Linked DNA regions of Homo sapiens. The protein of the gene in region 3 interacts with the protein of the main gene of each other region in a biochemical or structural test. Each region holds a gene or a part of one and is shown on either strand. Other genes may lie near its edges.

What was found.
Region 1: the proteins of CRB3 (region 3) and PARD6B form a complex in vitro, tested with the Homo sapiens proteins (one study listed by BioGRID).
Region 2: the proteins of CRB3 (region 3) and PALS1 form a complex in vitro, tested with the Homo sapiens proteins (one study listed by BioGRID).

Annotation. Positions count from the first base shown.
Region 1 is NC_000020.11:50,729,530-50,733,274, reverse strand, and holds the start of PARD6B (partitioning defective 6 homolog beta), read right to left. Parts: upstream 1,696-3,745; 5' UTR 1,489-1,695; coding exon 1,423-1,488; intron 1-1,422. UniProt on the Homo sapiens protein: Adapter protein involved in asymmetrical cell division and cell polarization processes. Probably involved in formation of epithelial tight junctions.
Region 2 is NC_000014.9:67,239,447-67,243,191, forward strand, and holds the start of PALS1 (protein PALS1), read left to right. Parts: upstream 1-1,988; 5' UTR 1,989-2,087; exon of another isoform or gene 2,088-2,136; intron 2,137-2,227; exon of another isoform or gene 2,228-2,539; intron 2,540-3,745. UniProt on the Homo sapiens protein: Plays a role in tight junction biogenesis and in the establishment of cell polarity in epithelial cells.
Region 3 is NC_000019.10:6,462,602-6,466,346, forward strand, and holds the start of CRB3 (protein crumbs homolog 3 isoform a precursor), read left to right. Parts: upstream 1-1,669; 5' UTR 1,670-1,749; intron 1,750-2,006; 5' UTR 2,007-2,100; coding exon 2,101-2,182; intron 2,183-2,943; coding exon 2,944-3,017; intron 3,018-3,745. UniProt on the Homo sapiens protein: Involved in the establishment of cell polarity in mammalian epithelial cells. Regulates the morphogenesis of tight junctions.

The DNA.
Region 1 (3,745 bases), on a different chromosome or scaffold from region 3:
AAATTTTTTGTATTTTTAGTAGAGATGGGGTTTCATCATGTTGGCCAGGCTGGTCTGGCACTCCTGACCTCAGGTGATCCACCCGCCTCGGCCTCCCAAAGTGCTGGGGTTACAGGCGTGAGCCACCGCGCCCAGACTCAAATCACATTTTTTAATGATGTTACAAACGAATGTCGATTTTCTCGATGTGATTCTCAGTTACAGAAACTTACAGAACTTTGCTTATCAACCCTAGACAATAAAACTATTCTACCTAGAGGCTCTAGGAAGCTTTCCTTACTCCACTGTACCTCACTCAAATCACTCCTTGATTTTACATACTCCTTAGTAGTCTTACCATCTATGATGCTCCATTACTTTTTTTTTTTGAAATTGATATACTTTCAATTTTCTCCTTTTCTGTGTTTTGGCCTTCTCAATTCTATTTTAAATGTTCTCAGGGCCCAGCCAGTGTCCTGTTTTGTATTCTGCAATGTCTAGAAGTTATTAAAAAGGCATGAAGGCTTTGCAAAAAAACAGCTTGAGGAAGTCATAACCTTTCTAAGCCTCAGTCTTCTCAGAGAATTGGGCTAGATTATCTAAGCTCCTTTTAACTCTTCAACTCAAGAAACGCTTGCTGAAAGTGTTCCCTTGGCTGCCGATCACCTTCAAATTCCAGCTCAAAACCCCCTTTGGAAGGCATTCCCTAACTAATCCCTCCCTACAGACTACCCTGCTCACTGAGCCTTGAGATTTAGAAATTCAGTGAATACCGAAGTAATTATCAGCAGATTGGCATACCGTTGGTCAAGGGGAAAAGCACTTGATGTGAGTAGGTAGCAGGATGGAATGAAAAGAGCATCTAGAGTCAAACTGTAAAGTGCTACTCCAACGTAAGGTGATAGTACTAATTTTACAGATTAAATGCATACCAAAGTTAGTGCTAGAAAGAGCGCCAGCAGGAAGCAAAGCGAACTTTTAAAGGGCTGTTTAGTTCACTGGGCTCTCTCCTTCGCCACTCGATGCGCCCCTTAACCACAGAAAGTGGGAACAACGGGGTGGTCCAGGGCCCTTTACTCACAGCCCAGCAGGCAGGATTCTCCTACACCTTTTGAGCAGCCTCGCATTTCACTCAGTGTGCGCCATCCTTGGATATACCTTGGCCCCTACTCCCGTCCGTGAACACGGGAATGAGATTTACGGAATGAGATTAAATGCTGGACTAGGTCTTCTTCCTGCCCGGGCCAGGGGCGGACACTAGCGCCCCCTGACCCCCGCCACCCCCTCCTCGGCAAGTTTATTACCCACAGTCTCCCGACCGCACCGTCCAGACCCCGGGGCAGCTCAGCCCGTCGCCTCCCCCGGCGCTCCGAGCCTGGCCCGGCCTCTCCCAGGCCCCGGCCCCCCAGGCCCGCCGCTCCGCCCAGCCCGGGCCCCGCGCACCTTGCTCTTCACCTCCATAGTGCCCAGGCAGCCGCTGCCCGCCCCGTGCCGGTGGCTGCGGTTCATGCTGAACGCCGAGCCCCGCGACGGCCTCCTCCGGCCGGGCGGCCCCTCAGGAGCGCGGGGAGCGAGTGCGCGACTGGGGATCTCGGAAAGCGGTTGCGGCCCGGGCGCCTCCTCACAGGCACCTGCAGAGGGGGCGGCCGCAGCTCCGGCGTCCGCGCTGAGCTCCACTCCACCAGCTGCTCACACGGCGGGACCGAGGGTCGGACTGGTGGCGCGGCAGGCGGGGAAGCAGCTCCCTCCCTCCGGGCCCCGGCGGCGACGGCGACAGCGCTGGAGGAGAGGAGGGGGCGGAGCGGAGGCCACAAGCGCCGCAACCTCTCCCTCTGCCGCCTCCCCCGCGAGCCCGCGCGCGCGCACCCGAGCGGACCACAGCCGCGGCGCGTGCGCGCGCTCACCTGCAGCCCCCGAAGATGCCGCAATCCCTCGCGTTCCGCCCACACCCAATAGAAAGCGCGCACCTGCGCCCGCGGCGCCAACCAATCGATACACGCCTCGCGCGGTGCGTGGGCGGGCTGCCTCCTCAAAACCCCGCCTACCACCGCACGATTGGTCCTGCGCTACGAGGGAGGGGCGGGATCACCTGAAGCCATGGCCCTCCGCCCCGCTTCAGGCCGGAGAGCCAGAAGGCGCATGCGCGGGTGCTGGAGTTTCCGCCCCGGGAAGGCACGCGGGGAGGCCGGCCGGAAGCGCGAGCGCACCTGAAGAAGGGCTCGGCTGGGTGGGCCTTTTGCGCACGCGCGAGCGCGCGCCTGGTTGCCCGGCTCCGCCGGGGCTCGCGCCGCTTAGCGCGCGCCAGTCACACGCACGGTCCAGGGGATTGGATGCGCCGCCCGTCCGGTTGCCGAGGCGCTGCGGGGCTATTCGGTTCCAGCCGGGCCCCCTTCCCGCTTCCACTTTGGGATGCTGCAGCCCCCAACGACGCCCCTCCACCGCCCCTTATCGTTGCTTAGGCGTCCCGCTGCAACTCTTGGTTGCAAAATTCAAGTTTTCCCGCCTCTGCAGCGGTTGCTGGGGGAGAAGCTTAGGGCTCTCTTGGCTTCATTTTGTCCGAAGAGACTCTGCACGCCTTAAGTCCGTCAGGTCGAGAGGGAAGGAAAGTGGGCTGAGGCGCGGGAAGGCTCCTTGCAGGCCCAGCCTCCCTGAGGATTTCTAGTCCAGTCTTTCAGGGCTTTTTTTTTTTTTCTTTAAAAGTCTTCCTTTTCCCTCCTCCCGCCATTCCTTGGCCATTCGCTGTTTCTACAAATGACAGCCTCTAGGTTGTGTTCGTTTCCCGGAGTGACCAAGCTGTGTCCCAGAGCAACAAAACGCTGAATCCTCCTCTCTGAACGTCCCAGAGCCCGGCCTCTCTTCACACAGACCCTGTGGGTCATGGGGAGGAGAGGAGAAGACTGAAGCTTTTGGCTGGAGGAGATTCCCAGGTCCCAAGGTCTCCCTGTGGGACCCGGGAATCCAAGAGCTGTTGAAACCTGCAAGCCAGGAAGGGGGCAGGGGAATGGAGGTGGAGGGGAAGGTCCAACCTGAGATTTGGCAAGAAGAGTGGTTAGGGTACCTTCCTCCCCTCATCTCCCTGCCCACCTCGGAGGCCTCCTAACACTTGTACCCCTGTTGCCCAGCACTTGTTACAAGTTACAGGTTTCCCATTTTTGTGTGCATCTGAGTTTTGTGAGTAATCTGCCACCAGCCTAGAATGAAAGCTCCCGAAGGCGCAGGGACGGCTTGTGCTTTGCTGGCATTGAGTGGCACAGAACCCGACTCCCAGCGGGTACTCAGATGGGTCTTTGCTGGGTGCTGCCACTGAGGGTGTCCCTTCTGCAGGCTCTTTGCCCCACTTGGGTTCAAAGGCGAGAAGCTCATTTTTTTCCCTCTGGAGGATTCAGGTAACCAGACGTTTTGTGGGAGGATTTAAGGTTTTTCTGGCCACCTGTGGCAGCACAGGTGGAAAGGACACCAATCCAAGCTGTATAATAAATAAGCAAGCTGCCTCCACCCCCTGTTTGAAAGCACATAGGAGGTGACTCAAGTTCAGCCGGAAATAAAGTGCATGTCAGGGCCTGTAACTCCCCTGTTTGGACTAGCACAGCAGTTCCCAACCTTTTTGTTTTCAAGACCCCTTTACACTATTAAAAATCATGGAGGACCCCAAAGTACTTTGTTTATGTGTAATGTCTTTCAATATTTATCTTAGAATTAAAACGGATGTGTCCAAAACATGGGAGTACACAAGCATGCATTCCAACAGTCATCAGAGTGATGATGT
Region 2 (3,745 bases), on a different chromosome or scaffold from region 3:
AATTATCCAGCCCAAATGTCAATAGTGCCAAGGATGAGAAATTATAAGCTAGAGAAAGAAGAATTCATTGACGAGCTGGAGGAAGCTTCTTGAATTATTATTTATGTTATATATTTAAGAACTTAGAGGCGGGGCACGGTTGCTCACGCCTGTAATCCTAGCACTTTGGAAGGCTGAGAAAGGTGGATCACCTGAGGTCAGGTGTTCAAGACCAGCTTGGCCAATGTGGCGAAACCCCGTCTCTACTAACAATACAAAAATTAGCCGGGCGTGGTGGCTGGCACCTGTAATCCCAGATACTGGGGAGGCTGAGGGAGGAGTATCGCTTGAACCCGGGGAGCGGAGGTTGCAGTGAGCCGAGATTGCGCCACTTTACTCCAGCCTGGGCAAAAGAGCGAAACTCCGTCTCAAACAAAAACAAAAACAAAAGAACTTAGAAAAGGAAGTAAGTCACACACAGTAACCGTTTTTTCTTTTGGGGTATGGCTAGTAGTTTCTAGGAATCCTGGAGACTTTATCTGGATTTCAGTTAGGCATTTCACCAGTTCTCATGGCATCTTTATGGAGGAATATGGGCCAAGAAGACAGTTCGGTTGTGTCGTCCACCTGTATTCGAAGCCTACTGAGAAATTTTTGATGGCAGGAGCATTAAGGTCTTTAGTGGCATGCAGCAGAGTTCTGTCCTCCGCTCTGTCTTATTAAACACTTGGACAGAATGCTGATCAGATTTGAGAAGGATAACAAATCTGGGAAGGGTAGGCATCCCCAAAGATCTTCACCACCAGGAACAACGGTTTGCTTCGTTCAGGCCATCACAGTGTCCTTAGTGAGGGACACCACAACCCATAGGCTGTCCAGAGGAGCGTAATGGGGAAGAATGTGAAAGAGCTTGAAAATCAGGACCTGAGGACATTGCGAGATGGAAAAACACCGTGGGACAAAATGAGGAAAACCGAGAGAAATGGAAATGGCATATACGAAGGCTTTGAGGGAGGACTGTGCCCCTGGGGGAAACTGTGCCCCCGGGCTGGAGTCACAGGCATAGTTTGGCCTCATAGAAGGAGAGGTCGATTAACAAACCTTGCAAGTGTTCAAATGTGGAATGGGCTTGCTCGGAAGGTACTGTCAAGACAGAGACCATCCGAGGGCTTTTATTGCAAGTGTCGAGACACATTGCTGGTGTTTCTCCTTAGAACGTCCTCCAATCTGCTCTGACTTCCGCCCGCACCCGCCTGAGTCCTGCCCCATTCCAAGGGTGGCACATCCAGGTCCCGAGGGCGCCAGCCATGCCCGGAGCACGGGCTGATCTGCGTAACTCTGTCCCTTCGGGAGACTTCTGGGAAATAGTTCTAGTCCTTGCTATCCTTGCTTTCTGGTTTTCAGAAATCAGTGCAGCTGCTGGCTTTATGCAGTCTTCTGCGGGACACTGCACACATCCAGGTGTTTATGTCATTTTTTAAAAAAAACAAATGTTAGATTGGGTGACTAACTTGACAGGACATGAGGAATCTCTTCAAGAGGAATCAGATTTTCTTCAGGATACGTCATCCAGAGACAAGAGCCAAGGGATGTAGAAACCCAGGGAAGCCTCGCGTCCCCACAAAGCCCGCCGGCCAAATCCCGAAGGGGCTCTACCGGGCCAGCTAGCCCGGAGCAGTCCGCGTTTTAGACTTAGAGGCGCGCGACTGCGCGCACCCGGCTGGAGCTGCGGAGAGGACCAATGAGCGGGCGCTCTCTCCGCTCCGGCTCGGGATTGGGCAAGCCGCGCCAGCCTCTCACGGGCGGGGTGGGACTCGGATCCGCGCGCCCACTGCGCCAGAGTCCCGGGGGCGCGTGCGCGGTCTCGCGGCGGCCGCAGGGGCCGGTCTCGCGCGGTCTAGAAGTGGAGTTGCTGGCGGCTGCGGCGGTGACGGCGGCGACGGAGGAGGCAGGCGGTGGGGCGGGGGCGGGGACTAAGGATTCTGAGGTGGGGAGTCGGGAGTTTCTGGATTCTTTATCCGGAATTTCAAGGGCCGCCGGAGGGCTGTCGCTTCTGCAGTGCGTAGGAGCGGCCGGGGCGGGAGGCTCCGCGGAGCCGAGGCGTGGAGGTAAGAGGCGGATCGGCGGCGGCTGGGCTGTAGAGATCTTAATCAACAGGTCCCTGGGAGCGCGGCGGGGGAGGGGCGGGCGGCCGGGCTCCCCTTCCCCCACACGCTGCGCAAACTCCGGCCAGCGGGAGACCCCTGGCAGCCAGGCGGGCTTCCTCAGGCGCGCGAGCTGCGGCCGTGGAGGGTGTGAGCCCAACCTTTGTCCCTCGGAGCAACGCTGCCTGCGCGGTGCCCGCTCCTTCTGCTTGGCTGGGCATGCACCTTGGCGCGGGCCACAGCCAGCCGAGCCCGAGGTGCAGGGGGCGCGGCGGGGAGTCGTCTGCCCCCTGCGCCCTCTCTCCGAGGTCGCGACGCGCGGGACTCTCCCGGCCGGGTCTGGGAAATCGGCGAGGGAACGCTTTCCTTTAGAAGTCAGAATGTAGTCAGCGTTCCTCTGCCTGACTCAGCTGCTGGTATTCTGCTGCTCATTGCGTTCTTAAACACGCAAACAGTTCCTGCTTCCTTGTGACCACTTTAAAAGAAAAGCCTAGTTTTGTTCATGGTTTCTGATACTTTAAGGTTGCACGTTGAACTTTGAAGCATGTAAATTGTTATAACCTACGTTTAATGAAGTTTGCTTTAAACGATCTTTGTAGTAAATTATGTAACTTTCTAATGATCATAACTCACCTTCTGTTGATTGACATACAGTAATGTGTACGGAATGTAGGTTTCGGTCAAAAGGTTTTTCTTGGCAGTTTATGCTAAAATTAAAATCTGATGGCTAGGAAGTTTTTAGATGTAGTATGGAGTGTGTGTTTTGTCTCCATACTCGTTTAGAATAGTAAGAATTTAGATTTGGAAAGTCAGTTGAACAAAAATTTTGAAATTTTGATTTGACTGACGCAGTGAAAGGTGTTAATATTTCTGATTTTTTAAAAAAGCAATATCATGTTTTAATGATAGTTTACTAATTATGCTTTTGGATTATACCAGAAGTTAATAACCTGTTAAATTATGCAATAGGAACAAATGACGTGTTGGTTATTGGTGTCTTTGAAGTATTGGTGGTAATGAAACTTATTAAATAAGCTTCCTTGAATTAAGAACTACGATTTTTTTTTTTTACTAGATCCCTGTGGACATAGCTATTGTGGATAGGTTTTATAGGCTTTCTATTTGCGGCAGGATGAGCTATTAAATTATAATGTAAGAGATTTATAGATAAAACAGGCAAAAATAGGAAAAGCAATTCATTATTTTATCTTTAAAAATCTGGTAAATTTTACCATGTACCTGAATTAGTTTTGGCAAGACGGACTTGAACTTGACAAATTAAGGTGGATTGATTAACATTAATTTGTTTTAGAATGTTAAAACGGGAGAGAATATATAAGTTCTACTTGAGGGTGACCCAAGTCAGTACAGTGGGTTTAGCTTTTACATGATCTTGAATTATGATTTTGATTAAAAATCTCATCACAGGGGCACGTGTTTTCAGGATCTCCTGAGGGCTGTGTCATGGAAAAAATAAAATTTATCACCCATTCCAAGAAATTTGATCAATTTTATATATTATTTACTGAAATGCCCTATTTCTCTGATATTTTCTGATTTCAGAGTGTCTAGAAAAAAATAGTATCTTGACATATGTGCTTATATAGAATATAATTGTCTTT
Region 3 (3,745 bases):
AAAACAGGTCTATTCCACATCAGAGTGCCTTAGTTAGCTGTTTGTGATGATAATGCAGGCGTGTTCTATAGAGATACTGTCCACCCTGGTGGTATGTATCCATTTGGTTATATTTCTTTTCTTTTTTTGACAGTCTTGCTCTGTCACCCAGGCTAGAGTGCAGTGGCGTGATCTCGGCTCACTGCAACCTCCGCCTCCAGGGTTCAAGCGATTCTCCTGCCTCAGCCTCCCAAGTAGCTAGGATTACAGGCGCCCACCACTACGCTAGCTAATTTTTGATTATTTTTTAGTAGAGACGGGGATTTCACCATCTTGGCTAGGCTGGTCTCGAACTCGTGACCTCGTGATCCACCTGCCTCGGCCTCCCAAAGTGCTAGGATTACAGGCGTGGGCCACCATGCCCAGCCTTGGCTATATTTCGTATAGCTGTGATTCAATGCAGATTTTTTTTTTTTTTTATGAGATGGAGTTTCACTCTTGTCACCCAGGGTGGAGTGCAATGGTGCAATCTCGGCTCACTGCAATCTCTGTCTCCTGAGTTCAAGCAATTCTCCTGCCTCAGCGCCCCCCGAGTAGCTGAGATTACAGGCACCTGCCACCACACCCGGCTAATTTTTGTATTTTTAGTAGAGACAAGGTTTCACCATGTTGGGCAGGCTGGTCTGGTTTCGAACTCCTGACGTCAGGTGATCCTCCTGCCTAGGCCTCCCAAAGTACTGGGATTACAGGCGTGAGCCGCCGCACCCGGCCATCTGTTTTCTGTATGTTCTTATATGTGAACACCTGTGCAGTTGTCTTCTGTACAGGTTTGGTTCCACACAGGTGTTTACCATACAGCTGTTTTTTTGTTTTTAAAATTTTTTTAGAGACAGGGTCTCACTTTGTCACCCAGGCTGGAGTACAGTGGTACAATCATAGCTCACTCACTGTTACCTCCACTCCTGGGCCCAATCGATCCTCCCACCTCAGCCTCCCAAGTAGCTGGGGCTACAGGTGCGTGCCATCACATCTGGCTAATTTTCTTATTTTTTGTAAATATGGGGCCTCCGTCTGTGGGCCAGGCTGATCTCGAACTCCTGGCCTCAAGTGATTCTCTTACTTCGGCCTTTCAAAGCGCTGGGATTACAGGATCACGCCACCGCCCCCGGCTTATTTTCTTCTTTTTATTTATTTGTTTATTTATTTATTTATTTTTTGTAGAGAATGAGGCCTCGCTGTGTTGCCCAGGCTGGTCTCGGACTCCTGGCCTCAAGCAATCCTCTTGCCTCGGCCTCTCAAAGTGTTGGGATTACAGGCGTGAGCCATTGCGCCTGGGCAGGTATTTTTTCTCATTAAGCGCTCCCCATCCAAGTCTGCCCTAGGCAGGAGTGCCTAGTGCACGGGTACATACATACCCCGTGCGTCTCCACACCTGTGCGCTCCCACAGATATGCTCGCAATGCAGGTGTAAGGTCCCCCTCACACCTGCGCGCTTCCGCGGTCTCCCTCCCCGCATCCCCATTAAGGGACTGGGGTCCCGTTACAGGTGCGCCCACAGCGCGGCCCCGCCCCCTTCTTGACTCCGCCCTCTCAGCGAGGCTCAGGTGCACAAGCCGGAAGTGCGCTCTCCCAGGTGAGTGACTAAACTTTCCGGGTCACGTGACAGGGCGGAGCCGGTGGGGTCGGACCCACAGAACGACCGACGGACCGAGGGTTCGAGGGAGGGACACGGACCAGGAACCTGAGCTAGGTCAAAGACGCCCGGGCCAGGTAGGAAGGCAGGACGCACCGCTAGGCCTGCCCCCTCGCCCGTCCACCCTGCCCGTCCCGTCCCGTCCCGTCCCGTCCCCTTCCTTTCCCCAGCCCAGGAACGCGCTCCTGGGAGTTAATCTTTAATCGCTGACCTCTGGCGGCTGGGGCGGGGCGGGACTCATGGGTGCCCTGGCGCCAGTTGTCTCTCCTGTGGGCCTGCGCCGGGGTCCCCACCCCGATCCCAACGCCTGGGCCTCTCCTTCTCCTGTCCCCAGGTGCCCCGTCGCAGGTGCCCCTGGCCGGAGATGCGGTAGGAGGGGCGAGCGCGAGAAGCCCCTTCCTCGGCGCTGCCAACCCGCCACCCAGCCCATGGCGAACCCCGGGCTGGGGCTGCTTCTGGCGCTGGGCCTGCCGTTCCTGCTGGCCCGCTGGGGCCGAGCCTGGGGGCAAAGTAGGTACCAGCTGAGAGCGCTGGGGGGGAGGGGTCTGGATTCCTGGATCTCTGCTGGGGACGTGGCTTAGAAGCGCTGGGTATCTGGGGCGCAGAGAGGGTCAAGAATTGGGGAGCGGGGAAGAAATACCTTGGGGAGGGGTCTACAGGGTTAGGGCTCGGGGGGATTAAGATTTCTAGTTTCTTCCTTGGACACTGGGAGTTGGTCTAGGAGACCTGAGTTCCCCAGCGAGGTGGAATTGTGTGTTGGAGTGGGGGCTCCTAAGTAGGACTTGGGGGGAGGTAAGGGCTGCGTACCTGAGTCTTGGTATAGTGCAGGTGTTTTTGGGTGAACTGGGAGCTGGGAGGAGGCCTGCCGAGCCGGGTCGACCTGGTTGGCTGAAGGTGTAGACCCCAGCCATTCAGTCTTAGATTTGTTTTGGGAGCCTGTGGGGAGGTGTGAGTCAGACACTCCAGGGAAAAGCTAGGCCCGCCCAGATCCTTAAGGGCCCAGGGCCGAGAGGTGAGTAGGGGAGGGGTGGACTTCTGGACACCCTACTGGGCTCTGCGGGACTGGGTCGGGGGGGTGTCCTGGGGAGCAAACACCCAAGGGAGAGGTCTTACCTGCAAGACACCCAACCATCTCTGTGCGAATGAAAGGCAGAGTTTGAATTGGGACCTGCTAGGGGGAGGTGAAGGGGAATGCCCAAAGCAGGTGCAGATGGGCGGGGATGGGAGAGAAAGATGGAGACTGAGTTATTCTCTGCCTTCACCCTCCACAGTACAGACCACTTCTGCAAATGAGAATAGCACTGTTTTGCCTTCATCCACCAGCTCCAGCTCCGATGGCAACCTGGTGAGTTGGAGGTATATGTGGGAAGATGGCAGCAAGGATGTTATCTAGGGGTCACACATATAGCATGTAGAGAGGACTAGACACCCCCTCCCCCCAGAGGTGGCAGGTCAGGGTGGCTTTGGAGAGCTCTAAGTAGGAGAGACCTGAAGTCTTAGACCAAGAAGACTAGGACACCCTGGAGGGAGTGGGCAGGAATACTGTAGCTGTCAGATGTGTGGGCTCAGGAATTCCATATGCCTCTCAGGTGGGTGGGGGAGCAAGGAGCTCAGACTTGGTAGATGTGATGAAAGCAGGAGTCCCGGCCGGGCGCGGTGGCTCACGCCTGTAATCCTAACACCTTGGGAGGCCGAGGCAGGAAAATCATGAGGTCAGGAGTTTGAAACCAGCACGGCCAACATGGTGAAACCCTGTCTCTACTAAAAATACAAAAAATTAGCCAGGCGGGGTGGCACACACCTGTAATCCCAGCTACTTGGGAGGCTGAGGCAGGGGGAATTGCTTGAGCCCAGAAGGCGGAGGTTGCAGTGAGCCGAGATTGTGACACTGCACTCCAGCCTGGGCAACAGAGCAAGACTCGGTCTCAAAAAAAAAAGCCGGAGTCCCAGACATGGCAGGTGCTTGCGAGGGGTGTCCCGGACATGGCAGGTGGTGGGGAGCCTTCGCACCCCAGACAAGGTAGGTAGGGATCCAGGAAGCCCCACTGTGGGGATCAGATCACCAAAAGTGGC